Linked DNA regions of Homo sapiens. The protein of the gene in region 5 purifies or fractionates together with the protein of the main gene of each other region. This does not show direct contact. Each region holds a gene or a part of one and is shown on either strand. Other genes may lie near its edges.

Evidence for each region.
Region 1: the proteins of YAP1 (region 5) and AMOTL1 purify together in Homo sapiens (affinity purification with mass spectrometry; 8 studies listed by BioGRID and IntAct, with this or other methods). This does not show direct contact.
Region 2: the proteins of YAP1 (region 5) and NF2 purify together in Homo sapiens (affinity purification with mass spectrometry; 7 studies listed by BioGRID and IntAct, with this or other methods). This does not show direct contact.
Region 3: the proteins of YAP1 (region 5) and HIF1A purify together in Homo sapiens (affinity purification with western blotting; 3 studies listed by BioGRID and IntAct, with this or other methods). This does not show direct contact.
Region 4: the proteins of YAP1 (region 5) and ALB purify together in Homo sapiens (affinity purification with mass spectrometry, with the first as the bait; 3 studies listed by BioGRID). This does not show direct contact.
Region 6: the proteins of YAP1 (region 5) and RNF187 purify together in Homo sapiens (affinity purification with western blotting; 3 studies listed by BioGRID, with this or other methods). This does not show direct contact.
Region 7: the proteins of YAP1 (region 5) and CCDC85C purify together in Homo sapiens (affinity purification with mass spectrometry; 5 studies listed by BioGRID and IntAct, with this or other methods). This does not show direct contact.

Annotation. Positions count from the first base shown.
Region 1 is NC_000011.10:94,861,819-94,866,069, reverse strand, and holds part of AMOTL1 (angiomotin-like protein 1), read right to left. Parts: intron 1,336-4,251; coding exon 1,210-1,335; intron 129-1,209; coding exon 1-128. UniProt on the Homo sapiens protein: Inhibits the Wnt/beta-catenin signaling pathway, probably by recruiting CTNNB1 to recycling endosomes and hence preventing its translocation to the nucleus.
Region 2 is NC_000022.11:29,609,827-29,614,077, reverse strand, and holds part of NF2 (merlin), read right to left. Parts: intron 1-4,251. UniProt on the Homo sapiens protein: Probable regulator of the Hippo/SWH (Sav/Wts/Hpo) signaling pathway, a signaling pathway that plays a pivotal role in tumor suppression by restricting proliferation and promoting apoptosis.
Region 3 is NC_000014.9:61,726,278-61,730,528, reverse strand, and holds part of HIF1A (hypoxia-inducible factor 1-alpha), read right to left. Parts: intron 3,824-4,251; coding exon 3,711-3,823; intron 3,077-3,710; coding exon 2,874-3,076; intron 1-2,873.
Region 4 is NC_000004.12:73,410,737-73,414,987, reverse strand, and holds part of ALB (albumin preproprotein), read right to left. Parts: intron 2,993-4,251; coding exon 2,863-2,992; intron 1,569-2,862; coding exon 1,354-1,568; intron 1-1,353. UniProt on the Homo sapiens protein: Binds water, Ca(2+), Na(+), K(+), fatty acids, hormones, bilirubin and drugs. Its main function is the regulation of the colloidal osmotic pressure of blood. Major zinc transporter in plasma, typically binds about 80% of all plasma zinc.
Region 5 is NC_000011.10:102,116,719-102,120,969, reverse strand, and holds part of YAP1 (transcriptional coactivator YAP1), read right to left. Parts: intron 1-4,251. UniProt on the Homo sapiens protein: Transcriptional regulator with dual roles as a coactivator and corepressor. Critical downstream regulatory target in the Hippo signaling pathway, crucial for organ size control and tumor suppression by restricting proliferation and promoting apoptosis.
Region 6 is NC_000001.11:228,490,022-228,493,925, reverse strand, and holds part of RNF187 (E3 ubiquitin-protein ligase RNF187), read right to left. Parts: intron 874-3,904; coding exon 652-873; intron 44-651; coding exon 41-43; 3' UTR 1-40.
Region 7 is NC_000014.9:99,593,597-99,597,847, forward strand, and holds part of CCDC85C (coiled-coil domain-containing protein 85C), read right to left. Parts: intron 1-4,251. UniProt on the Homo sapiens protein: May play a role in cell-cell adhesion and epithelium development through its interaction with proteins of the beta-catenin family. May play an important role in cortical development, especially in the maintenance of radial glia.

The DNA.
Region 1 (4,251 bases), 7.3 Mb from region 5:
TGGATGGAACGGAGCGGGCAGGACGTAGGCTGGAGGAGTCTGTCTTCCCGGCATCTTTACGAGATCGCTGCTGCAGGACCTTAATCATAGCATCTTTCTCTATGATTTTGGCATGGAGATTTTTAATACTGTAAAACAAAACAAAACAGTCTCCATAAAAAGCCACTTGGCTAGAAAAACTTGAAACATTTATCTCAGGCTGTCCCAAAGACTTTAATTGTAATTTAGGGATACAGGATGAAGCACAGTACGAGTCTTCAAATGTTGATAATCTCCAAATTGTTAAGACAGGTCTTTTGTCATATGTCAAAAGAGTACACCTTCTCTGGCACCTTGGGAGACTGGGACTTCAGCGAGGTACAGTTAGAATGACCGTGGCCACATTCCTGGACCGAAGTCGGCTGGGGACCATATTTAGAGGGTCTAGCATTGGCGGTGGGGGCCGGGGGTAGGTAGGGGATAGGGAAGCATAAAAACTCTAAAGCCTCAAACAGGGTGAGCTTTCAGCTAAAGTCAATTTCTCTATTTTCTAAGAAAAAAGAACCAAGATGAACAGGTTCTCTGGTAGAAGATGATTTTTCTGGAAGAATGCTGAGTTATTTTCACAACTTTGATAGTAACTCACTGAGCCTATCTATCAATGGCTCAACTACTCAGCCCTATTTTCACATCTGCAAAATAAGAGGCCTAGGGCTCCCAGGGTTCCACAAGCCCTTAGGTAGTGAAGGGGGACAGGCTAGTTTTATTATGTCAAAAAGTCTGCTGGAAATTTTGTGTAGCCCATCAGAAGAGTGCATTAGCTAAATATGTTCTTTATTTTGGACTGGAATATATAAATTCTGGCTCAAAAACTCTGAATCTTTGGGATATAATGTTTCCCCCTTTCAGCTCATAATGTCATAGAGATAGACACCAAGAAATAACACAGACATCTAAATTCTTCTGTCACTAGACTCAGCCTGCATCTTAAAACCGGCAGGTGACACGCAATTTCCCCCAGAGAACTCCGGCACCAGATCCATTGCTGAGTGGAACCACGTGCTTAGGTTGGAACCTTTTCCTTCTCTCCATGGCACAGCATGGGGGAGGAGAGTTTTTGGAGACCTCATGCTCACAGCCTTTCAGAACAGGACAGAGAAGCAATCTGTTCTGGAAGGCCTGGAGTGTGAATGCAGCGGGCCCCACACGTCACACATAGTCGTCCCTTACGTGTATTCCATGTCCTGACACCTTCTGTTGGCCTGCACCACCTCCTCCTCCTCTTGCCAGATGTGGGCCTCCAGCGAGCTCTCTCCGTAGCTGCCATTCCGTGAGTGGTTGATGATCGTGGTGTCCCTGGCAACACAAGGATATGCGTTTGATCATAGGAAACCTTCTTGCTTTGTCTCAATGCAAACAGACACAGAATGGAGAGGCTGGTGTTCATGCTGGAACAGAGATCAGCTCTGCATCTCGCATTGGCTCATGAAGCCTTTCCCTCCCAATTTCCCCAGCTCAGTTATCAATCTCATCTGATGCCCATACAGAGAAAGGTGTAAATGCTTGTGGAGAGGTGATCACAGGGTGCCGTGCTAAAACTCCACAAACTCCTTCACCCACTTTTCCTCTCCTGAATTCTGTCCAATTCTCTTCCTTAACTAGATAGAATTAAGCAGCATCTAAGGAAAACAAAATAAAATTCAAAAATCAAGTCCCCTCCCCCTTCTGACTACATTATGTATGTAGCTACATGGCATGTTATGAATATGTAAAATGGGCACCTAGAGATTTAATCTACTGACTTATGGACACTATTATTATTATTATTATTATTATTATTGTATTTGTTGGTGTTTCCATGCTTGTACTTTTTCATGCTTGTCCTATACCTCACTTTTCCAATCAGAGTTTAGGTTTTATTTCTGTTTATCATCCATACAGCATAGAATGCCTACTTCAGTATTTTACAGTAAAATGGGGGCTCAGTAAATACTTAAAACTGAGACTGGTCCTCTCAGAGAGTGAGGCTCCAAGCTGAAGTCTTCCTTCATGTTGTATTCTGTCTCACTTCTTGTTTTATGGGCCCTGCCTGGGATGCAGGTCAGGACAATGTAATAGGCATGCCAGGGTCCAGGACAGAAAGAAGAAGGCAGACACTGTCCTTGACAAGTTCAGGTGAGGTGGGTGCAGTGAGGGCAAGGGCAGACACGAGAAGATCAAGAAGCAGTTTCACTGCAAGCATCTGTCTGACTATAAACAACCAGTCACAGATAACTATTCCTGCCACTGGTTTTGACAATTTAATTACTACTAACTAACAATGATTAGTAAAAATAAGATCACTGCATCATCTAAGTGATATAGCTCAAGATGAAAGGCACAATAATGGCTCTGACTACATGAGTATTTAATTAGTAAGACATGATGTAGCCAAGTATTTCACATCTTTTAACTTCATATTCCAATGTACAATCATACTGAAAAACTTTTTTTTTTTTGAGATGGAGTTTCATTCTTGTTGCCCAGACTGGAGTGCAGTGGCGTGATCTCAGCTCACTGCAACCTCCACCTCCTGAGTTCAAGCGATTCTCTTGTCTCAGCCTTCCAAGTAGCTGGGATTACAGACATGCGTCACCACATCTGGCTAATTTTGTATTTTTAGTAGAAATGGTGTTTCACCACGTTGGTCAGGCTGGTCTCAAACTCCTGACCTCAGGTGATTCACCCGCCTCAGCCTCCCAGAGTGCTGGGATTACAGACGTGAGCCACCGCGCCCCGCCTGAAAACTTTAAAGCTTTTTTTTTTTTTTTTACAGAATAGCCCAAAACAGAAAAATAGAGGCCCCTTTAATGACAGCTATCAACATTAATGAGCATTTACTTCATACAGGGACTGGGTAGGGCACGGTACACATGGTCTCTCATTTAGTTCTCACAACTTGTGCACAAGGTATTATTATCCTCAATTTCTAGATGAAGAAACCAGGGTTAGGTGACATTTCCAAGAATACTCAGTTAGTGAATAGTGAAAATGGATTCTAACTCAGGTATTTATGACTCCAAAGTCCATGCCCCTAACCATCGCTCTATACTCCTGCAAGTTTCATATGTCTTTAAGAAGAAGGTCTCAGCAAAGATGAGTAAAGATAAAAACAAACCAGAGGGCATATGTGAGAATGTGGCTCAGAAAAGTGCAAAGTGTCATTGAAAATACACTAAAGGCCAAATGATGTAGAAAGCAAACAAAATGCTTTAAACATATTTGCAAAATTATAAATTCACACTATGGTGCACAAAATCATCAATATAGAAATTAGTGGCTAGAAACATTTTCAACAAATTTACTTTTGGAGACTTTACATGGAGCTGGAAACAAATCTGAAAATTCATGTTTACATTGCCAAGTAAGGAGAGCAAACACAATTAGAGGAAAGCAACTTAGATAGTAAATATATAAAACTCTGAAAGAAATATTACATTGCTTTGAAATTTTTAAAAATTTTCAAAACCTTCTGCACACATAAAAGATAAGCTGACTCTCTAAAAATTCTGACCAACACCATCAAGATGCATAAAGATGGGAAAACCAGTTGGTTTACAGAAGTTATTTTCTTTGTTTAAAAATCATTGATTATAAATATAAAGCATGCATCTGTGGTTGAAAAGTCACAAAACTAATGGCTGGAAATAGTCATTTTTACCAATTTGACTGTGGCCATTTAGCACCTAGTCAATAAGAGCTCAAAATGTGTACCTTTCTCAAAAATGTTTCATTTTCCTTTTTTCTCTTACTGAAAAGAAAAAAGCAATTCTGAAATGACAGAGGTTTTCTTTGAAAAGAACATTAAGATTGGAGCTATCTGAGGTTCTCTGAACCTATTCCCCCACCCAGAAGGGGTAGTCTGTAATGGGGAGGGTAGTTGCTCACAGAATTATTAGATGCTCAATAAATATGTGTAAAAGCAAAGAAGGAGGGGTGACGGGGATGGAAAGGGGCTCCCTCTGCCCATCCAAGACTCCAAATAAGGCAGAGAAGGGGAACAGTGGGACTGGGTAAATCCCACAGAACTCCTGTTCTCTGGGGTAAGAGTCATTTCCCCTTGCACGGAGGATAAGAACAAGGCTGGGCCTAGAATCCTGTGAGTGGGTGATTGTGACTGGGTCTGGTTCTCCTCGCTCCCTACCCTCCCTCCTCTGCCCACTACAGGGTGTATGCTTTGGACTCATTCATTTCCCGACTTCTGAATTTTACTTTCTAGTCCCATTCATACCC
Region 2 (4,251 bases), on a different chromosome or scaffold from region 5:
ATTTGTTGAAAGGACTATTCCGGCCGGGTGCGGTGGCTCACACCTGTAATCCCAGCACTTTGGGAGGCTGAGGCAGGTGGATCACGAGGTCAGGAGTTCGAGACTAGCCTGGCCAACATAGTGGAACCCTATCTCTACTAAAAATACAAAAATTAGCCGGGCGTTGTGACAGGCGCCTGTAGTCCAGGTACTCAGGAGGCTGAGGCAGGAAAATCACTTGAACCCAGGAGGCGGAGGTTGCAGTGAGCCAAGATTGCACCACTGCACTCCAGCCTAGATGACAGAGCGAGACTCCATCTCAAAAAAAAAAAGAAAAAAGAAAAGAAAGGACTATTCCTTCTCACAGTCTGTGGCATGTAGCAAGAAAAGACAAGACAAGACAGTTCTCCCCCACTGAATGGTCTTTGCACCCTTGTCAAGAATCAGGTGACCATGAACTCTCAACTCTATTCCACTGGGTTTATTTCTGGACTCTCAATTCTATGCCACTGATCTACACATTTATCCTTATACCAGTACCACACTGTCTTTTTATTTTTATTTTTTTGAAATGGAATCTCGCTCTGTCCCCCAGGCTGGAGTGCAATAGCACGATCTCGACTCACTGCAACCTCCACCTCCTGGGTTCAAGGGATTCTTGTGCCTCAGCCCTCCCAAGCAGCTTGGACTACAAGTGTGCACCCCCACGCCCGGTTAATTTTTGTATTTTTGGTAGAGACAAGATTTCGCCATGTTGCCCAGGCTGGTCTCGAACTCCTGTCCTCAAGTGATCTGCCTGCCTTGGCCTCCCAAAGTGTTGGGATTATAGGCATAAGCCACGGTGCCTGGTGACGTTGTCTTGATTAGTTGTTTTATAGTATGTCTTGAAATCACAAAGCGTGAGTCTTTCTGCTTTGTTCTTTTTCAAGATTTAGCTATTGTGGGTCCCTTGCGATTCCATAGGAATTTATGAATTGACTTGTCAATTTCTTTTTTTTTTTTGAGATGGAGTTTCGCTCTTGTTGCCCAAGCTGGAGTGCAGTGGCGCGTGATCTCAGCTCACCGCAAGCTCCGCCTCCCAGGTTCAAGCGATTCCCTGCCTCAGCCTCCCGAGTACCTGGGATTACAGGTATGTGCCACCACACCCGGCTAATTTTGTAGTTTTAGTAGAGACAGGGTTTCTCCATGTTGGCCAGGCTGGTCTTGAACTCCTGACCTCAGGTGATCCGCCTGCCTCGGCCTCCCAAAGTGCTGGGATTACAGGCATGAGCCACTACGCCTGGAGACTTGTCAATTTCTACAATGAAATAAACTGGGATTCTGACAGGGATTATGTCAAACGTGTAGATCAATTTCCAAAATACTGCCAATTTGACAACGTTATGTCTTATGATCCATGAACAAGAGCTATTTTCTATTTATTTATTTATTTATATCTTCTTTCTTTTAAAAATGTTTTACAGGCCAGGCACGGTGGCTCACACCTGTAATCCCAGCACTTTGAGGGGCCAACATGGGAGGTTGCTTGAGGTCAGGTTCAAGACCAGCCTGGGTAACACAGGGAGACTCTGTCTCTACAAGAAATTAAAAAACAAACAAACAAAAAAAAAAAGCTAGGGATGATCGCGCATGCCTGTGGTCTGAGCTGCTTGGGAGGCTGATATAGGAGGATCACTTAAGCCTGGAAGGTCTAGGCTGCACTGAGATATGATTGCACCACTGCACTTGTTCTCACTTCAGTGCAAGTCCGAGAAAAAAAAAAATCAATTAATTAAATATTTTAAAAGGCCAGGCTGGGCGCACTAGCTCACGCCTGTAATCCCAGGACTTTCAGAGGCTGAGGCGGGTGGATCACCTGAGGTCAGGAGTTCGAGACCAGCCTGGCCAACATGGTGAAACCCCCTCTATACTAAAAATACAAAAATTAGCCAGGCATGGTGGTGCACACCTGTAGCTCCAGCTACTCCGGAGGCTGAGGCAGGAGAATCGCTTTAACCTGGGAGGCAGAGGTTGCAGTGAGCCGAGATCGCGCCACCGCATTCCAGCCTGGACGACAGAGTGAGACTCCGTTTCAAAAAAAATTAATTTAAAAAACAAAACCAAAAATGTTTTACAGCTTTTAGAGTATAAGTTTTATACTTTCTTTTACTAAACTGTCAGAGGATGGAAAAAAAGATACCTCTTTTGTTATAAGTATTTTTATTTTTTAGGTTATTGTAAATGGAATTTTCTTAATTTCCTTTTCAGATTGTTCATTCCAAGTGGATACATTTACAACTAAGTTTTGTGTAATGATCTTGTATCCTATAACCTTACTAAACTAATAATTTATTAGTTCCAATACTTTGGTAGTGGATTCCTCAGGGTCTATATGCAAGATCATGTCATCTGCAGAGATGATCTTACTTGTTCCCTTCCAACATAGATGTATTTTATTGCATTTTCTTGCCTAATTGCCCTGGCTAGAACCTCCAGTACAATGCTGAATAGCAGTAGTGAAAGTAGACTTATCTCTCTTTTTCCTAATCTTAAGGATAAGCATACAGTCTTTCACTATTTTGTTTGTTTGTTTGTTTGTTTTGAGCTCTGTCGCCCAGCCTATTGTGTGCAGTAGTGCTATCTCAGCTCACTGCAACCTCTGCCTCCCAGGTTCAAGCAATCCTCCCACCTCAGCCTCCCAAGTAGCTACAATTATAGGTATGCACCACCACACCTGGCTAATTTTTTTTTGTATTTGTAGTAGAGACAGGGTTTCACCATGTTGGCCAGGCTGTTCTTGAACTCCTGACCTCAAGTGATCCCTCCAACCTTGGCCTCCTAAAGTGTTAGGATTACAGGCGTGAGCCACTGTGCCTGGCCTCAGTCTCACTATTATGAAGTTAGCTGTGGGTTTTTCATAACTGCTGTGTATCAGGTTGAGGAACTGCTCTTCTCTTCTTAGTTTATTTAGTGTTTTTATCATGAAAAACATGCTGAATTTTGTCAAATGCTTTTTCTGTGTCTACTGAGATGACAAGGTGATTTTTGTTTTTTATTCTATTGATATAATGCATTACATTATTTACACTAATTCATTTTTGGATGTTAAACCAACCTTGCACTCCTGGAATAAATCCTGCTTGTTTATGGTATATAATTATTTTTATATGTTACTGGATTCAGTTTGCTAGTATTTTTGTTGAGGATTTTTGCTTCCACATTTGTAAGATATATTTGTCTATGGTTTTCTTTTCTTGTAATGTCTTTTCCTGGTTTTTGGCAACAGGGTAATACCAGTCTCATAAAATTCGTTTGTAAGTATTTTCTCCTCTTTTTCATTTTTGAAGACTTTGTGAAGAACTGTATTAATTTTTCTTGAAATGTTTGATAGAATTCAGTGGTGAAGTTATCAGGACCTCTAGTAGGTACAGGCCTGGGCTTTGCTTTGCTTTTCTTTCTTCTTTTTTTTTTTTTTTGAGATGGAGTCTCACTTTGTCACCCAGGCTGGAGTGCAGTGGCGCAATCTCAGCTCACTGCAACCTCCAACTTCCCGGGTTCAAGCGATTCTCCTGCCTCAGCCTCTCGAGTAGCTGGGACTACAGGCGCACTCCACCATGCTCGGCTAATTTTTGTATTTTTAGTAGAGATGGGGTTTCACCATATTAGACAGGCTGGTCTTGAACTCCTGACCTCGTGATCTGCCCACCTTGGCTTCCCAAAGTGCTGGGATTACAGGCATGAGCCACTGCACCCAGCCTCTTTTCTTTTTTTTAAGAGACAGGGTCTCACTCTGTCACCCTGGCTGAAGCACTGTGGCACAATCATAGCTCACTGCCTCCTCAACCTCCTGGGATCAAGTGATCCTCACACCTTAACCTCCTGAGTAGCTGGGACTCCAGGCTCACACCACCACGCCTAGCTGAGTTTAGATATAGTATGTATATTTTAGAGTTGGGGTCTCTCTATGTTGCCCAGGTTGGTCTCAAGCTCCTGGCCTCAAAGGATCCTCCTGCCTTGACCTCCCAAAGTGCTGAGATTACAGGCAACAGCCACTGTGCCCAGGTCTCTCTCTCTCTCTCTCTCTCTAATTATTTATTTATTTTTTAAGGGTATACTATCCTACCCAAACTTATATTTTTAAATTCCATTAGACTCATATTACCAAGCATATAAACAAATCACACATAACACGAAATAGAAAAAAACATTAAGACTTCCTTTGCTTTTGGAAAACAACTGAGAAACAACAAAATTCTTTTCAGAAATACAGAAAAAAATTGTTTTTATAGTGTA
Region 3 (4,251 bases), on a different chromosome or scaffold from region 5:
CATGGTGCAGGTAACAAAGATTCTATAATATGATTAGTGGAGACAGATATGAGATGATGCTGAAGAAGTAGGTAGGGGGATCAGATTAATGAAGGTATTGTTTATATTGTCATAGGAAGCTCTGATTTAATCTAATGTCAATCAGTGCTTCTCAATCTGAGGTATGTCTATCACTAAAAGATACCAAGAAGTCAAAAATATAAACTGTATATGCTTTCCTAGAAGGTCAGTTTTACACATATTAGAGCAAGAAAAGTGAGGTTAATTTAACTTTAGAGAATTACATAGGTTATATTCTATACCAAAAGGGTCGGGGTGTCCAGAAAATATGACCAAAAAGTGTTTTTAATGGACTAGGAAACCCATGATCTAAAGCAGTATACTACTCATTTATTTTGAGGCAGGAACTGTTCATCTTCATTTCTACTTTAGTGCCATGAACATAGTAGATGCTCAAATAAAGTGTTGAATAATTTTAAATGATTATTACTCAGTATAGTAAATAGCAGCTATTTGTGGAATATTTTGGAGTTGAGGAGCTTGATATGTTAGATTTTCTTAAAATTGAGCAAAATTTTTTCCATAGCTTGGTTCTCAGGGGTTATAGATGCAAGAAGTTCCTGGAAAGAGCTCTAAACCAGAAAATAACAGTCTGCTGGTCAAACTCAAAACTGTCTTGGTTGATATATGAGCTGGCTGTCTTTACTGTTACCTCCTGTCATGATCATTTTGCTAATTTTCTGCTATAACTAGAGGGGAATGTCACTCCCTTTCTCATTTTTGCTCCACTACCTTCCTTTCTCCCTGGCCTCCTCTCTACTTTGTTACCTTAAGTTTTCAAAAAAATAAAAAATAATTCCTCAAAATAGGATGGAAATCTCTGTCCCATCATACATTTACATGCTAGTAGTAAACACCTTAAAATAATTCTTAGCTTTTCTATATTCATTTTCTTAAAGTTGACACCAGTAGTGAAGCATTCACTATCTGTACTAGGCACTCAATGGACTCCTTTAATCCTGACAACATCCTTCTGAGGTCTTTTTTTTGTTTTGTTTTTGTTTTTTGAGATGGAGTCTCACTCCGTCTCCCAGGCCGGAGTGCAGTGGTGCAAGCTTGGTTCACTGCAACCTCCGCCTCCTGGATTCAAGCAATTCTCCTACCTCAGCCTCCCAAGTAGCTGGGATTACGGACATGTGCCCCCATACCCAGCTAATTTTTGTATTTTTAGTAGAGATGGGGTTTTACCATGTTGGCCAGGCTGGTTTCAAACTCCTGACCTCAGGTGATCCACCCACCTCGGCCTCCCACAGTGCTAGGATTATAGGCATGAGCCACCCCACCCAGCCATGATTCTTATTTTATAGATAAGGAATGTGAATTTTACAACAGTTAAGTACCAAGGCCAAGGCCACATTGTAAGTATCAGAGCTGCAAGCCATGAGTGAATCTAACATCTGATTCCAAAGACAGAGTTAGGGCCAGAGCATAAATATCTTTGTTTGCCATGCTAAGTTTAGATTGTATTGTGTAGGTCTATTTTTTTTCAGTCTTCTAAAATACACATCTTCTTTTGATAAATGAAAAATTTACTTCCCTCATCTAGTATTTTTATAAACAAAATATTTTTGTGTGCAAAGATGGAGGGAAGCATTTGAGGCATTTTCAACAACAGAATGACATGATCTGATTTTCACATTAGGACACCCACTTTCTGGCAACTTAGATGAAAGATTATAAGGGTACAAATCTGTTGGCAAAAAGGCAGCTATGCCAACAACTCAAGTCAAGAGTAATAATGAGCTAATGAATTCAATGGCAGGAGTGCAAGGATGGAAAGGAGGAAATGGATCAAGAGATATATGTAGATAGTAAATCTGTAAGATTTAGACACCAACTGTATGTAGCCAATGAATGTAAAAGAAAAGTTACAGATGACTTCCAAAGTTTTGCTGGAGTCATGTGTGTATGGTGGTGTATTAAACCACAATAAGCATTATAGGAAGAAAGGCAGTTTTTGATGATGATGTTGTTTGGGGGCAGTAGTAGTACAGTTGTTACAGTAATACTTAGTTTACAATACAGAAGAATATCCAGATAGAAATATTAAGTTGGCAATTAAATAGAATTAGTTACAGGAAGAAATGTGGGAAATAGTAATAGAAACCATGGGCAAGGTTGAAGCTTCTCAGGGAAAATATGTAGGATGAAGAGATGTACAAACACTTGGCTTTCTAGTCCCCAACCTAAGGTAATCTATCTTTGCTCAAAATACACACTGCATATCTTTGAAATTCTCTAAGTAAGTAGAGCCCCTATTGGGGAAAAAAAGACTCATCTTAACTTCTGGATAGCACCTAGTAAAGTAAGTGTTCATAGTACAGAGTAAATGTTCAATAAATGTGGCTGAATTAATTTACAAAGTTAATCTAATATTATAGGATGTATCATTCTGTTCAATTTAGTGGAAAGTATAGTTTAACATTGAGTAATTTTTTTTTTTTTTTTTGAAATGGGAGTCTTGCTCTGTCATCCAGGCTTGCAGTGTGGTGGTGTGAGCTCAGCTCACCACAACATCCACCTCCCAGGTTCAAGCGATTCTCCTGCCTCAGCCTCCTGAGTAGTGCCTGCCACCACGTCCCACTAATTTTTGTATTTTTTAGTAGAGATGGGGTTTCACCACATTGGCCAGGCTGGTCTCAATCTCCTGACCTCAGATGATCCACCCCCCGCTTGCCTCAGCCTTCCAAAGTGCTGGGATTACAGGTGTGAGCCACCATGCATGGCCAGCGCTGAATCTTTGCTATGGTGAATATTCAGTAATGCTGTAGACTAATTAAAAATTTCAAATTCACATTTTAGATCTAATTTACCTTTCATCACAATAAGAAAATTTCATATCCAGGCTGTGTCGACTGAGGAAAGTCTTGCTATCTAAAGGAATTTCAATATTTGATGGGTGAGGAATGGGTTCACAAATCAGCACCAAGCAGGTCATAGGTGGTTTCTTATACCCACACTGAGGTTGGTTACTGTTGGTATCATATACGTGAATGTGGCCTGTGCAGTGCAATACCTGTGTATGAAGAACAAAGCAGTTAAAAAAAATATTTACAATGCTAGGGAAAAAAAAAGCAGAGATAAGTAGTTGAGTCTGACATGGCCAGTAAGCTTTGATAAAATTTACTGTCACTAGTGGATTAATCACGTTTTTGAAAATCAATGAACATTTTTCCTATGATACCACCTATGACCTACTTCCTGCCCAGGGCCTATACATTACTCTTTAAAAAATTCCCCTCGTATAAAGTCTAGGCTGCTTTTTCATTCATCTCATCATCATGGCTGTTTGATAGTTATTTCTTGCACTGATGACTATGTTTCAACATTGAACAAAGATATAAAACCATGATTAATAGAAAATTAAGCCCTATCAGGATTCAAATATTGTGTGGCTGGCAAAGCCAACTGATTAAGCCTGGAACACCAGTGCCACAATTCACGTAATTTAAGTTTGTGCCTCAAATTGGCAAATTACTACACGGTTCTGCATTTTGGAGATCACATGCAAATGAGTTGAAGATATAAATGTTACATAACCAAACACCATGGAACTGTAAACCTTCCCTCACAATTCTAAAGTTATCTTAATACTACAATGTCTATGTATAAATAAAGTGTATAATCAATCACAAATAATTTTCACTTACCTTCCATGTTGCAGACTTTATGTTCATAGTTCTTCCTCGGCTAGTTAGGGTACACTTCATTCTGAGAAAAAAGCTTCGCTGTGTGTTTTGTTCTTTACCCTTTTTCACAAGGCCTAATGAAAGCATGAAATAAAGTTTTAAAGCAACTAAATATACAAATTTGTTACAATAAAAGTAACAAAGTGCCCATCACCTAGATCAACTGAATACCCGTTCAATTAAGTCTCAGCATGAACACAGTAATTCATTCCCCTTTTACTCACTCCAGCACACCCAAGAGATCTGACACACACTACTCAGTAGCTGTGATTCCCTGAGTTGGCTGAAAGATAATCCATATTTGGGATAACAGTTAATCATTGAAGCCAGTAAGCTTAGTCAAATACACAGAAATATAAAAATGGTATGAGTTTGCTCTTTAACTGTGCTATCGGTACACAAGAATCCCTAAAGAAAGAACTTCAGCAAACTCTTCCTATCCTTTCCTGAATGTGTTAGCTCAATTTCTAATAAGCACTCTATGTCTTTATAGAACCTTTAA
Region 4 (4,251 bases), on a different chromosome or scaffold from region 5:
AAAAATATCACAAAGCTAATCTCAAAAGTAACTCATATTCCAAAAGTCTTAATTTGACTAAACCCCATGCAGTAAAGCTTAGTAGCTAAGGACTTGGGGTCCAGAGTTAAAGTTACCAAGGCTCAATTCCTAGCTCTGCTACTTATATCACTGCATCACCTTAGGCAACTTATTTAAATGATCAGAGCCTTAGTCTCCTTCTCGGTAGAATGGAAATAATAATAGTATCTGTCGGCTGGGCACAGTGGCTCATGCCTGTAATCCCAGCACTTTAGGAGGCTGAGGCAGGCATATCACCAGAGGTCAGGAGTTTGAGACCAGTCTGACCAACATGGTGAAACCCCATCTCTACTAAAAATACAAAATTAGCCAGGCATGGTGGTGCATGCCTGTAATCCCAGGAGGCTGAGGCAGGAGAATCGCTTGAACCTGGGAGGCGGAGGTTGTGGTGAGCCGAGATGGCACCATTGCACTCCAGCCTGGGCAACAAGAGTAAAACTCTGTCTCAAAAAATAAATAGTATCTGTCTCGGAAGGTGGATTATGAGAACTATATGACATAATCTACACAAAGCACACACTGCTTGGCACATATGAAGTCTTTGATGAATGATACTTGTTATTTTTATTAACATTTTGTTTGATTTAAACTACATCTCAAAAGGATTCTGATAAATAGATGGGCAGAGATATGTTCTTAAAATATTCTCTTTCTTCTCTGTATGAGTGAAATCTTGTAGGGTACATAATTTTAGGAAATATTATTTAGTGCATTATCATAATCCAACAACAAAAATGCAGTTTATCACCACAACTTCTGACAATATGTAAACATTTATTTTGTAATTGAGTTGCCTACCATATTGCCATTATACTGAACTTCTGGTCTTTTCACCAAATATAAAGCACCTGGTGTCAGACTCTATATTTCTTTTTATACTTCTTTGCTATCATTGCATAGATTAGATAGATAGACTAGATTAGATTAGATTAGTTAGATAGACAGGCAATACATAGTCACACACATATATTATAGATGTTCAAGAAATACACTTGGAATGAATGACTGAAGTATACATAATTTATATATACACAAAATGTTTCTAGACGTATTTTCAGAAATACCCCTAAGGAGTAAGGAATGTTGAGCTTTGCCATGAACATGTATTATTTTATGACAATGTATTCAACTAATTAACTATTTCAAAAATTGTTAAAGCCTGGGAAAGGGAAGGATGAAGAAACATTCTGGGCAGCAGGGAAATTGTAGCAACTCCACAGAAAAGCCTAGGCTATCCTCCTAAGTTGTGAGGTCATGCCAAAGCTATAAAAGAATAATTTCTTATCTACTTACATGCCCAGGAAGACATCCTTTGCCTCAGCATAGTTTTTGCAAACATCCTTACTTTCAACAAAATCAGCAGCTAATGAAGGCAAGTCAGCAGGCATCTCATCATTTTCCACTTCGGCAATGCAGTGGGATTTTTCCAACAGAGGTTTTTCACAGCATTCCTTCAGTTTACTGGAGATCGAATCTTGATTTTCACAGATATACTTGGCAAGGTCCGCCTATAAGTAAGTTGGTGGAAATTGTTCAACACGAATTGACATTGCTACACTTTCTCCTCAGACCTTTATTAAGTTGGCAGAACATATTCATTGTATTCTAAGACCATACACATATTCCTTCTATGAACATACTCTGTTTGCTCCTAAACCTGGAGATGTAGATAGGACTACAAAAACATTCCCACTTAATTAAAATAGACTAATCAGTAGCAGGTGCTCAGCTCAGTTATTTATTAATTTTATGTTTCTACTGTTAGGGCATTTAAGTTTTTTTCATTAAAACTCAATGCTGTTTTTCCAAATAATCCCCCAAAATTAAGTGCAGGCCTTTTGAAACCAAATAACTAAATAAAATATAGAAGATTTTTGAAAAATGAGTCAAGATCATAGTCATAGGCCCTGCTTACATATATAAAATAACCGCCTTAAATTTTCCAGAAAGTGCCATGAGAGATTAGGATTCTAGTATTTGCCCATAAGTTTAATCTTGAAGAAAGGGAGAAAGAAAATATTATAAGTTTTGAGAAAAGAGATATCATTCCAAATATTTGCACATCTAACAAACAGAGTTAATTAAGGGAAGGAATATAGAGAAGAAAAATACATCATTTCCAAAAATCTCTTCAAGTAGTGACCTTCTCCAAGTCCACCTACCTCCCTCAAAAAATCTTCTTAGGCTGGGCAAGGTGGCTCATGCCTGTAATCCCAGCACTTTGGGAGGCCAAGGCGGGTGGATCACCTGAGGTCAGGAGTTCGAGACCAGTCTGGACAATATGGTGAAACCCCGCCTCTACTAAAAATACAAAATTAGCCAGGTGTGGTGGCGCATGCCTGTAATCCCAGCTACTTGGGAGGCTGAGGCATGAGAATCACTTGAACCCAGGAGGCAGAGGTTGCGCTGAGCCAAGATCACACCATTGCACCCCAGCCTGGGAAACAAGAGCGAAACTCTGTCTTAAAAAAAGAAAAAAAAATCTTCTTAGACATCTACCTTGCAAGATGTTCTGCCAAGTAAAACCTTGTAACTGTTCTACTTCAGTTTAAGCCTTCATTTACAGTTAGAGCATGACTGAAAGGAGTTACAAATCAGTGAATGGGTTTATCTGGTAATTTATAGCCAGGTTAAAAACAGAAAGGTACCACCACCATAGGCAGGGAAAGATTGAAGATAGGACAGACGAAAGCACAGAAGACAATCTCAACCCACTGTCAGCTATCACCAATGATACCAAACGCATCCATTCTACCAACTTGAGCATGCAAGCTACCAAAAAGCATATCGACGACTCTTTACCCTGTCATCAGCACATTCAAGCAGATCTCCATGGCAGCATTCCGTGTGGACTTTGGTAAGATCTGTCACTAACTTGGAAACTTCTGCAAACTCAGCTTTGGGAAATCTCTGGCTCAGGCGAGCTACTGCCCTAAAAAGAAAATCGCCAATCAAAATGGTATTATCATGCGATATTTTATATGAAAACACTAGGCAAATACTATTTCTCATAAGAAAATTCAAAATGGACATACAGAAATAATTTTTAAAATTCATTAGTTCTAGTTCTGAACCAAATGGTAATCACTTATCCTTAGGGCAGAATTATCCATTTAAGAGTGTGTGTGGTAGGTAGAAATCTAGCAAGTCATAAAAGCAGAAATTAAAAAGGAACTCTAAAAGGGGCAACAGGCTGAGAAGCATCAGGTTTGGAGTCCAGATGTGACTTCCAGCTCTGGCTTTATCACTTGTTAGCAGTAGGACTTGTTAGCAGAGGGCTCAGCCTCTCTGAGCTTCAGCCTCTGCAGTGTCATGACAACATGCTAAATTGAAGAAGTTTTGAGGATTAAATTAGATAATACATACAAAAGCATTTTATAATCTGGGAAGTACTACACAAACTCCAGTTATCTTTTTTCTCAATTGAAACACATTTTTTCTGACTTCTAAAGGTCTCTTAGAAAAGAAATCATAACTTCTACAGAATGAGGGAGTTTTTATTGATCTTACTTATAAAAAGAAAGATCCAGCACTATCTTCAAACTCTATGACAAGATGTAAACGTCTAATTTTCTTCATTCTCTAGTCATTTCACAGTTGCCTAAATCAGGTAAAGGTGACTTCTTTCCCAAAACCAATCATAGCCTGTTTATCTGTGTATAATTTTATGTTGGGGCTGTTTTTTTTCATAAATTTGGTTGATTTTGGTGGTGTAGATGGTAGGAATGATGAGCAAATACAGTTCAATTGACAGTTTCTAGAGAGCATGCATAATGTCTATTATTTTCATTTTATTTCCTGTTGTGTTGATTTGCTGTTGACTAGCAGGTGAGGAGTGTGGGTGACGGGGCAGCTAGTATTTTTCTTGACTCGGCTATTAAAGTATGCTCCCAGAACCAACTAAGTAATATGAAAACAGAGGCTCAGGCAAAAACATGAGATGAAGATCAGAGCTGGAGCTATGCAAAAATAAGAAGTAACTTCAACTTAGTTGGTGACTGAATTTAACTATAAGACATAAAAGGACAAGCAAATAGTTTTAGATCATTGGGGGGAAGATAAAATTAAATAAAGGGATTATATATGTTGTATACTTATATCAAAATATCTCATATACCCCGTAAATATGTATACCTACTCTGTATCCACAAAAATTAAAAATAACTTTAAAAAATTAAATAAAGAACCATG
Region 5 (4,251 bases):
GAAAAAAAAATCCACATCTTGCTTCACCTCCTAGGTGGCAGCGTATGTACTTTTTATCCCAAAAGCCTGCTCCTTATTAGTCAGTTCAGGATATACGAGAAGTTGAATTTCAAGCAACTTTCTATACTACATTCCATTTTGTCAAAGCACACAGTAACACTTTAACAAGCACACTATCTTTACTCCAAATCCCAAATCAAATCTGCAGCAATTTTCATGCAAGTATCAACTCTCTAAACATACTTACTGGCCAAATAAATACCTTACTTTAAAAACAAACAGAACTCCTCTCCCTTTAGGTTAAGCAATCAATTGGAAGAAGACAAAGGAAGGAGCTTTTAATAAAATGTCCCCTCACCCACCCCCAACTGAGAATCCTGCTGAAGAACTTGATAGTCGAGTGACTAACATCCCATAAAGAGATAGAGAGACAAATTAAAGTGACAGCACATGAAGTAATGGCACTAACCACAAATAAAGCACTGAAAATATCTGGTAGAAGAAAACCCAAATAATAGATACTGCCATTTGCACTATTTTATTAATTTGCAACATCATTCAAAGAAACAACAGACTATCACTTGGTTGGTGTGTTTAAAAATTATGATTCTTCTCATGCTAGGAGCAAAATGAGGATTAAATACTGACCATTTTCCTTGTCTAGAATATTAAAGGGGAGGTGGGGAGGACTGCTGTGATTTAAACCAAACTTCTTTGTTTGCATTTAGAAGGGGTCAAGCCCTACGTAAATAAAAGTGCTTCCACGGTGGCAGTACTTGTTCCCAGGAAACTTGGTGCTACAGCACTTGAGCAACCAGAACCATGAAGCAATTCTTCTTCATAGAAACGGCAATGTCCCTTTCATGGCTTGTAGTTCTGATTAATCCTAGAATCAGAAGCCCTTTTTGTAAGAAGTGCATCACCTAGTAACCACAGTTATAGAACGACACAGCTCTTTAAGACCTCCCTTTATACAATGCTACTCAGCTATTATTAAAAACTTTCAAGCCACAATTAATGGCTAAATTATGCTATTACAGAGGGTAGCATTAAGTTTGAATAATCTTAAATCTTAGCAACTGATTTTTAAAATGACTTCACTTTGATTGGTCCTAAGCTTAAATTTCTATATATATTTTGGCAATAAAACAGTTTAGAGTTTACCTCCCCTCAAAGCCTTAAGGTACAAGGCAATGCAGAGTCATGATACCCTGAGTATTTTAAGCTGTGAATTCACATTATTTTTCTAACTACAAAGTAAAATATTTCTCTACATAACTAAAGAGGACTTATTTTAGGGTTGTAAAAACCTGGGTTTTTTTTTTTTCCAAGTTTCAACTATTTAAATGCTATCTAGATGTTTGGGTTTTTTTTTAATGGCTAAGATAAAGCTTTAGGAAAGGGTATTTTTTTTTAAATGTGACTTTAAAAAGAAAATTAGCCTACCACCTTGCAGTCAATTGAGTCTGCTACATTTAAACTTCCAGAGATAGTTCTAGAATTCTTTCTAGAACTAAGAATCATAATTTTTAAACACACCAAGTGACAGTCTGTTCTTTGAATGATGCTGCAAATTAATTAAATAATGCAAAGAAGTTCTAGTGAACTTCTTTCTTAGTTCACACTAAAAAAATTCCATTATTTTTCCCAGGGAATATGTTAATCTCTATGTTCTATTTACTCTGTCACATCTACTATCTTCCAACTGTTTTTCTTCTGCCACTGGTGAATACAGTTTCTCCAGGGTTCTCTCCCTAAATCACTGTGGCACTGTGTGCCATTCTTCCCTGGGATGCCCACCCACTGAGCAGAAGTAAGCTCTCCCCCACCCCCCAGAGCTAAGGGCGTACTTTCATCTTCTCTCTCCACTCAGCCTCAATAGCAAGACAAACAAGCAGAGACTGGCCTTCCCTCAAATAGGGAAATACTTCGTGATTGCAATTTGAACTGGTTTTTTGTTTGTGTATACATGTGCACGTGTGCAACTTAACATTTAATGGCAAAATTACAAGCTTTTCAGTTTTAAAGGGAAACTCTGGGTTATACTTGATACAGAAAGAAACAGTATAGCCTTATTCTTCATGAAACTTCCTTTTAAAGAGGCATAATCTTTATTATGAAGATACACTGTATATGTTCTGTATACAATGTATAAATACCAGGTACACTGTATATGATAACAACATACACTGTATATGTTCATAGTCTTTTTTTTTTTTGAGATAGAGTCTGGCTCTGTCGCCCAGGCTGGTGTGGAGTGGTGCAATCTCAACTCACTGCAGCCTCCACCTGCCAGGTTCAAGCAATTCTCCTGCCTCAGTCTCCTGATTAGCTGGGACAATAGGTGTGCGCCAACACACCCGGCTAATTTTTGTATTTTTGTAGAGATGGGGCAGGAGAATCACGCGAACCCAGGAGGCAGAGGTTGCAGTGAGTTGAGATCGTGCCACTGCACTCCAGCCTGGTCAACAGAGCAAGACTCTGTCTCAAAAAAAAAAAAAAAAGGAAAGAAAGAAAAAAGAATCAGCCTATGTATAGCGATCAATCACATCTACAAGGCAAATTAATATAGGAATATGGGTAGTTTTATGCCATGCAATGTCAAAAATCTCTGAAAAACATATCCTTTTTAAATTGTATACCAAGCTACTCAATATAACTTAATCAAATCACAGCCACAAAAAACCTTGAATCTTCGCAGACTAAAAACATTGTGGCCAGTTATTCAGAAAATGATAAACAATGGAAATGAAACAAAACTGTGCTTTAAAAATTATTAGAACATTATTAAAACAATGCAAATGTACAAACTTTTAAAATCACTGATCCAGATTCCTTAAATCAAATTATAAGGTCCTACATGGTACATTATATATAAGAACACATATCTTTGAACATGGTAATAGTTATAAGGCATCAGAGTCAATAAAATAAACTTGCAAGTAAAACACTCCTTGAAACCAGAGATATTATAGAATACTGAGTCAGGAAGTTATTCAGCAGCTTATAAAGAAATAGGAAGTTGTTGACCAACTACTTGAAGAACTATTTCCTGTAGGAAAACCGTAAGACAGCTGAAGAAGGTAATAACTCTCAGAGTCATAAAGAGAATGAATTCTTTTAAAATGAAAGCTCAATACGATGGTAAAGAAAATAGTTTTGAATAGTAAATGTAGTAGAACAAATATTATATGGCTAAGCCTTGTTTACATACTTCACATTCATCCCAGAGCTTGAAAACAAGCCACTGATAAATGTAACTAGCACCATACTTCCACCGTATCACTTGCCAAAGTAAGGTATGAGTCTCCTCCACAAGATCTCACTGACCTAAGGAGGGCTTTAAAACAACGAATGATTGCCTGCTTATAATCTTTCAGTAATCATGCTGCCTGGAAACTAGATGATAGGCCAACTAACTTCAAAAACTCAATCATCTATGGTCACAAGGCCAACAACTGGGTTGTTTCTTAACATTTCTAAGTTTTTTCTCAAATTACATCGTCTTGCCTGTCTGGACCATTTATAGTCAGGTTCTTCATGCCAAATATAAATCTCAATAAGTTATAGACTTTGTAACTTAAAAGTCAGTTCCAACAAATATCTAAAAAGATGCATTAAAATAAAATGTTTCATTGCGGAAACAAGTGTAAGGCAACTAATTTAAATCTTCATTCTACATCTGATGACAACAACACTCCTCTTTAGATACAAGAGGAAAGTATATAAATATTGATTACAAAGACAGCCCTATTTTAAAACATCAAAACTAGGATAAAAATGAACTTTGACAACAGAAACTTGGCACCAAAAGCTTAGTTTATCATCATCTTTGACTAATGGTTAGGATATTAATCTCATTTGTCTGTTCAGTACACAAAAAGAAGTTGTAACAACTATACGGTCCATAACATCATGGAAGTAGCTAACTGGAGAAGGTGAAATAATCTTATTTCATAACTTTTCTCCAAATTGCATAATGTTCATAAAGCAGATACTCTTTAAAATACAAAATTTTATAAGCCCACAGCATTCTTCTCCCACATCCAATGTTTAGGGGCCTCCATAGAATCCCTGACAGATACCAAGTAACCATGATTTTACCTACATTTATTGAGCAAGATTTACCTGTCCAGGAAAACTCTTCTAGTTCTTAAAAGTTTTATATAAGAAAATTCTTCCATGGAATCAAAATTCCTCACATTTCTTATATAGTAAGACTAATCCTACTCCCACATAAAAGTTCCCCAG
Region 6 (3,904 bases), on a different chromosome or scaffold from region 5:
CTCCTGCCTCCAGCTCTGGGACTGCCACGGGTTGGCGCCATCACTGCATGGGAGGGGAGAGGGAAAGACAGAGAGACAAAAAGAGAAAGAGACACACAGAGTCAGAGACAGAGGCAAAAGGAGAGAGCGAAAGAGAGAGCGCACATGAGACAGCGCATGAGGTACTGTCCTGAGCACAACAAACCCAGGGCCTGGCCCAGACTTCCGTCTCCCCAGGGCCAAAGCCTTGTCACCTATGGCTGGCACGGGCAACTGAACCGTTCAGGGCCATCTGGGTTGCTGCAGGGTCTGGGGTTCAGGCCAGGCCCTGGGCAGAGGCAGAAGAAAAGCCCTGAGGTTGGGTTTCTTGGCTGCTTCTGCCTTCAGGACCCCAGGGCGAGGCAGGAGCCTTCCATGCTCGGGCACTCGGGATGCCAAGTGCCCTCCTTTGTGAAGGTCAGGGACACCTCAGACCCTCCTCAACTTAAAACCCCTTCCCATCACCTTCCCTGACCACCCACCCATTCCCGAAATTCAGCCCTGCAAGGCCACGGCAGTGGGAGTCAGGCTGGGCTTTTAAGCCTTGACTTCGGGCAATGGTCCCCCAATGGCTCGCTGCTGCCTGCGTCCACCCTGGCCCGATGGTGGGCAGACCCAGCGGGGCTCCCGCACCTGCAGCAGCATGCTGAGGCCCAGGTTGCGATGCTTCTTCTCCAGCTCCGAGACCGCCTGCAGCAGTGACCTGAACCGCTCAGTGGGGTCAGCCAGCTCGTCCTCAGGGAGCCCCTCCTCCTTCTCAGCCTCCTGCAGGAAATGCTCCTCCTCCTCCACAAAGAAGGCCCGCAGCTTCTTGTAGTCGGTCAGTGCCTTCTTCCTACGGTCCATCACGTGTCCCTGCAAACGGGTGGCAGGAAAAGACCTGTGTCCTCACCCACCCTCCCCAGGGGAAGGGGAACCTGTTTGCTCTTGAAGGAGTTAAGAACATGCCACTCCAAAACATGCTGCTCAGGCACATCGACTATTAGGCCAGGCACAGTGGCTCACGCTTGTAATCCCAGCACTCCAGGAGGCCAAGGCGGGCGGATCATGAGGTCAGGAGTTCAAGACCAGCCTGACCAACATGGTGAAACCCCGTCTCTACTAAAAATACAAAAATGAGCCAGGCGTGGTGGCACGCCTGTAATCCCAGCTAATCGGGAGGCTGAGGCAGGTGAATCACTTGAATCCAGGAGGCGGAGGTTGCAGTGAGCCCGAGTTCATGCTACTGCACTCCAGCCTGGGCGACAGAGCGAGACTCCATCTCAAAAAAAAAAAAAAAAAAAAAAAAAGCCAGGCACGGGGGCTCACGCCTATAATCCCAGCACTTTGGGAGGCTGAGGCAGACAGAACATGAGGTCCGGAGATTAAGACCATCCTGGCCAACCTGCTGAAACCCCATCTCTACTACAAATATAAAAATTAGCTGGGCGTGGTGGCGCACGCCTGTAGTCCCAGCTACTTGGGAGGCTGAAGCAGGAGAATCGCTTGAACCTGGGAGGCAGAGGTTGCGGTGAGCCAAAAAAAAACAAAAAACAAAAAAAAAAACAATAACAGAAGAGGCCTGGCACGGTGCCTCATGCCTGTAATCACAGTACTTTGGGAGGCTGAGGTGGGAGGATTGCTTGAGCCCAGGAGTTCGAGACTAGCCTGGGCAACAGTGAAAACCTGTCTCTACTAAAAATCAAAAACATTAGCCAGGCATAGTGGTGCACACCTATGGTCCCAGCAACTCGGGAGGCTGAGGTAAGACGATCGCTTGAGCCCAGGAGTTTGAGGCTGCAGTGAGCTATGACCATACCACTGCACTCCAGCCTGGGCCAACAGAGCAAGGCCTTTTTTAAAAAAAATCAAAAAACAGTGCAAGATCACCCTGACCTCCATTCTGCTTCTTAAAAGCAAATGAAATTCCCAAGTGAAAGACGCCCTCCCCATATCAAATAAAATGATTTTATCATCAAGGACGACAGGAAGTCAAGGCCGACAGAATTTGGTACAGACCTTGTGAAAACAACTCTTTCAAGCATCCCCACATCATGTAGTTGCTTTTTTACAAGTGGCTAGTCTTTGTCCAAGTCAGTATATAAGTGATTTAATTTTGCCACTTTGAGTCTTCATTTCATTATAAGGGAGCCTGTGCTGTATAAAACTTGTGTTAAATTAATATGCCTGGCTGGACACGGTGGCTCACACCTGTAATCCCAGCACTTTGGGAGGCCGAGGTGGTTGGATCACTTGAGGTCAGGAGTTCAAGACCAGCCTGGCCAACATGGTGAAACCCCATCTCCACTAAAAATACAAGATTAGCCAGGCGTGGTGGTGCACACCTGTAGTCGCAGTTACTCGGGAGGCTGAGGCAGGAGAACCACTTGAACCAAGGAGGTGGAGGATGCAGTGAGGCAAGATCGCACCACTGCACTCCAGCCTGGGCAACAGAGCAAGACTCCATCTCAAAAAAAAAAAATCCTATGTTTTTTCTCCCATTAACCCATCTCCCTTTATTTTTTTTTTTTTTTTTTTTTTGAGATAGGGCCTCACTCTGTCACCCATGTTGGAGTGCAGTGGTGCCATCACAGTTCACTGCAGCCTCAACCTCTTGGGCTTAAGTGATCCTCCCACCTCAGCCTCCCAAGTAGCTGGGACCACAGATGCAACACCATACCTGGCTAATTTATTAATTTTTGTACAGATGGTGGTCTCACTATGTTACCCAGGCTGGTCTCGAACTCCTAGCCTCAAGCAATCCTCCTACACCTCAGCCTCCCAAGTTGCTGGGATTACAGGCATGAACCACTGCACCTGACCCTGTTAGTTTAGCTTATGTCAGTTTAATTCTCCCGCCCAGCCTGGGGCCCTAAAAGGGGAGAAATAGAGTTCTTTCTCCCCTACACTGCAGTGCTCAGCTGCACAGGAAGACTGTCCCTCTCCCATCTCCCATGGCCAAGGGGACAGTAAATCCTTGAGTGGCCCTGCTAGGTCTAGAGCCTGTCAGGCACGTGACTGTCAGGGCAGGACACACACCCATCTTGCCAGCAACTGTCCCTGCTGTGCCCACACCAGAACTCCAATGGCTGAAAACCATCCCATCAGCCTTCAACAAACAGCATTCACACTTGCCACTCTTCAGCTGGTTTTCAGCCAACTCCTAACCTTGCAAACAGGAGAGCAGAGCAGGATGCTACTCTGATTTTACTCAGTCATGGATGGCTTCCACCTGGCCCTGGGCCACACAGGGCAGGTGACACCCATAGTCATGAGGGGCCAAGGCTTTTGTTGCTGAGAATGCAAATGACAGCTGGGTGTCTGCTGGCTGGCTGATGCAACACGCTGCAAACTCCTTCCTTTGGATTTAGGTGGCTTCTCTCATCCCAGCATCTAAGCCACAAACCCCCAAAACAGGACAGATTGAAAGCTCCAACCTGCTAAAATCTGTGGGCAAAACAATTCCCTTGGGGTAACACAGGGTTACTGAAAACTTGGAGGTCCCCAAAGCCTTCCAGCCTCACTTGCACTGGGCAGTGTTGACCACTCACAAGGCAAGGAGAAGTTCAGAGCAGCCCCAAGGGCAGTGTGGAGTGCCAGGGGTCTGAGTGGCATCAGGGACCCCATGTGTAACCCGTCACTGTCTGAGGGAGGCCTGCACCTCAGGCCTGTGGATAGCAGGCAAGGGCTTGGCAGCACCAGGAGCACAGAGCCCACCTCAGCCTCAAGCTGGGGTAAAAACGTGGGCCTCAGCCTCGAGATGCAGCCAGTTACCCAAGAGCTGCTGCACCTGTGAAAAGCACTCTGTCTTTCAGGTTAAAAGAAGGAGATAGGAATTTATGAAACGCAGAGAAAATGGCACACAGGTTTTTACTACACGAGGAAAAAGTCACCAAATAGAGTTTAA
Region 7 (4,251 bases), on a different chromosome or scaffold from region 5:
CACAGGTCAGCGAGGGGGCAACACAGGCAGGGCCGTTTACTCCTCACTGCTAACGTGAACTGACACCAGTCTCCCAACCCTGGCCAGCCAGGCTCTGTGGTGCCCAGTGTGGGCGCATCCTCGCCCCTAGCTGGCCTGCTGGAAGGGCCCATGGCTGTTCTCCGGGATCCTGGCTCTGGCCACCCAGCAGAACCTCCAGAGCCTTCACAGCCTCCAATGACACCAGGACCAACTGCACCCATCTCTGGGGCTGGGCACGGGCACTGGTATTTTTTAAAGTTTTCTAAGTGATAGCTAATATACAGCCACAATTAGGAACCACTGGTGAAAGCCAAAAGGTATATATTTTAGTAATTATTCAGGGGAAATGGGGAAGGTGGGGTTGTGTAAATCACCACCCTCTTGGGGAGGTTTGATTTTGCTGGGGGTGGGGGCGGGGGGCGGGGAGTAACTTATTTAACTCGGTGCCAAGTGTACAAATGAGAAAAGAAGGACAGGTGGGCAAAGTGGGTCAACCACTATCTGGCACCTGGTCAGTCCTTCCGGGACTGTTCACTCCTCCCTCCAACACTGACTATGCATTGCAACAACATTCTGGACTGGGAGAGAGACAGGACAGCAAGCAGAGGAACCTCGAGTCCAGGAACATGCAGCCTTGTCCCCAGCAAACCTGCACCAGGAATTGAAGCTCAGTGTTCTCCTCTTGCACTAAACCCCTTACTGAGTCCTTTAAGCAGAGGCAATCAGATAGGGGAGGCAGGTACTTCCACTGGGGCCCTGCAGGAGGGGAGGCTGGTCTGGGCCAGGGTCTCAGCCTCAAACAGCGTTTAGACAGGTCACCATCTCTAGGCCCCACAGTGGGACCCATGTGGTCACAGGTAGCCTCACCATCCCCACACCTGCCCCAAGGCAAGGACCAACCACGAGGCAGGTGATAAAACCCAGGCTGTAGGGCATAGGAAGAGAATTCCCAGGAATATAAAAGAGCTGGCTCATAGGACCACTGAGTGACCGATAGGAGGCAGGATGGGCAGGGGAGGCCACCCCTTCCTTGTGGCTCTGAGTCAAAGGGCCAGAAGAGATGAGGGTCCCTGGGACTCTCAGCTCAGCCCATCCAAGCTTCCTATTTTACAGATGGGAAAATGAGGGCCCAGGGAGAGGCACAGACTTACACATGGTTGGGTCTCAAGTGGGCTGAAGCCACTGGTTCTGTCTGGATCGTCCAATCCACAGAACACTAGTAATCTTCCAAGACCCCCAGGCAGGGAGCATGTCAGCTGACAAGGCCACTCAGGCCCAGCAGGTGATGTGTCTGCATATTTATCAGGTGGGGAGCAGGGGAAAGATGGGGATAAGCTGTAAAAAGTTTCCAGTTTCTAATAGGACTTCTAACAGGTAACTCTGGGTCCTCTTGGAAAGTCCATCAGAAAAGGTTAGAGCTAGAACTGCCCACACCCCGAAGGAAAGCCCAACCTAGGGACTTCAGGGACAGTAGAAGAGGCTTCAAAGACCCCACCGGCCCTGGCCTTGCTCACTGCCCCAGTGCTTGTCCTGGGTCCCCACTCATCCATCACCCCAGCTGAACCCAAGGTGCAGGCAAATGCCCACCGCATGACTTTGCTCGGCTCTTCTTTTTGTTTTGGTTTCGTTTGGTTTTGGTTTTGGTTTGTTTTGTTTTGAGATGAGTCTTGCTCTGTGGCCCAGGCTGGAGTGCAGTGGCGCGATGGCTCACTGCAACCTCTGCCTCCTGGGTTCAAGAGATTCTCCTGCCTACCAAATAGCTGGCATTACAGGCGCGTGCCACCACACCTGGTTAATTTTTGTATTTTTAGTAGAGATGGGGTTTCACTATGTTGGCTAGGCTGGTCTTGAACTCCTGACCTCAGGTGATCCGCCCAGCTCAGCTGTTCTTTCTGCGAAGCCTGGTCTCTCTTCTTACCTGCTCTCTTCTGCTTTTACTAACTCCATCTTCAAGGCCCATCTCAGTTCCCAATTCGGCCACCCCTCCTCTGAGCTCCCAGCACACCTGAAGAGGTTAAGAGCCCAACCTGGGCATTTCCTTGAGGGAAAGGGGCATGATGAATAATCACACCCACAGGGCAAGGGAACCGGGACATACCGGCTGGCACAGGCTCCGGGTTCAACTGGACGGGAGTCCCTGACCTGGCCCAGCCCCACCCTGCCCCTGCTGTAACTTGCCTCACCATCCTGGGCCTGTTCCTTAGATGAAACAGGGACCCCAATGGGGACCAGCAACTGTTGTGGGAGGCGAGTGAGAGAAAACCCAGTTGCTGTCAGCACAGTGCCAGGCACACGTTTGTTCCATCCAAAAGACTTTCAGAACCTGCCACTCTGTGCCAAGGCTGGGAGTCAAGAGGACCAGAGTCCCAGGCTCATAAACTCCCAGATGAAGAGACAGTAATGACAGAGGGCCCCAGGTGGGCAGGGAGGGCTCCAGCACCCATGTGGCTGGCCCTGGGGTGGGCCCCTGTCTTTCTCAAGTCTCTTAGTGCCTTAGGACTCTGTGAAGTTTGCTCAGGGGTTTCCGGCTCTCCCGGGCCTGGCATTTGTTCCACTCTCAGATACCATCAGCCGCAGACACAGTCTACTCAAGGGCTTTTCCAGGGGCAGAGAGGGGAAGACCTGCCAGCAAATGTCCACATGGGTTCTAAGACACGCCCCATATTACAACTGGGAAGGGAAAATGCCCAGCTTTGAACTGAGGAAATGGCAGAATGTCTCTGCCGTTGAGGAATCAGGAAGAAGGAAAGGGAATCAGACCCTCGCTTCCTCCCCAGGGCCATCTACTGTAGTTAAACATGCTCCACGCCTCTGTTTGAACAGTACACATAAGGCAAACCCAAGAACACTTACAGGCAGTCAATACAATCCTGATCTTTCTGCTCTGCTCCCCTCAAGAGCTGGAGGTCAGCGGTGACCTGCTGAAGAACAGGCACCCATCCCCGGCTGACCCGGCTCCAGGCCTGCCCAGAACCCTCTGCCTGTGAGGACAGGGGATGTATGAGTGTCCAATCCTGGGTGCTTGCCTAGGGGAGGGGGACCATTTCTGACATGTTATGATCAAAGAAGCATCAAGTCCCTTTAGCAGACAAGTTTGTTCCTCTATCCCCAAGCCTTTGGGGATGCCAATAGAGTCTCTTGTTGTTATGTAGCAGGGAGATGAGAATTCTGAACCCCAGAGTGGTCCCTGCCTAGATCCCAGACGCTGATCCCAACCACCCTAGATGTAGGGATGGGAGTAGCGGGGAGCAGCATCAGCGCTGGGGATGGAGGGCACAGCAGCCACCTGGGAGCGGCAGCATCTCCCACAGGCGCTGTCCTGCCTGAGCCCCACCCAAGAGCTCAGGACGCCTGCCCTAGAGGACAGAGGTCATGAGAAGGCAGATAGCAGCTGAGAGCAGGACTTTGGAGCAGACTCACCAGGTCTGGAACCTACAGAAGGCTCTCTCCTGTGGCCACTCTCCTGGCCAGAACCTCCTCCCGATGGAAGCCCTCAGCTTCCACCCACTGCTCCCCCAGCCCAGCCCACACCACAGTGGTCACCAGAGTGATGCTCCAGAACCACCACCCCCCAAGCCAGACTCCAAGAATCACTGCTCAGGAGGCACTCAGACCTCAGAGGCAGTAAATGCTCAGTGAAGTCCGCAGACGCTTCCCTTCCTCCTGAAGAGCAAATTACCACCTGTGAGGTCAAGTCCCGCTTCCCACCTGGCTCTGGGTTCAACCAGATTGGATTGAACACACACATTCAAAGCTGGGCATTTTCCCTTCCCAGTTGTAATGTGGGGCGTGTCTTAGAACCCACATCTCAACCAGATTCCCAGAGCTGTCTGGGGTGTCCACAAGCCCCATCCTCAGTGGATTCAGGAATGCCCCTTCTCAGTGTCCACGCAACCTCCCCTGACACAGCGCTCCCCAGCCCTGGAGGCAACACAGGCCACCTGGGCCACTCTTGCTTGTGGGCACTGAAGTCTGAAAAGCTGGGACTTTGGGGTCTGCCCTGTGGGGCTGCCCACAGCACTAACCCCCCTAAGAGTTATCTCCCCACACACATCCTGGGTCCACCTTGCAGGCCCCGGATTCTCAATGCCATGCTCCAGACCCCACTTCCAAACCTTAGCCATTCTTATTCCTGCCTGGAATGCTGGCTCCCTCCATTCAACTAGATGAGGACTCAGCTGCCTCCGACCCTACACTGGGTACCAGCGTGTGTCAGGGGATCTCCCACTC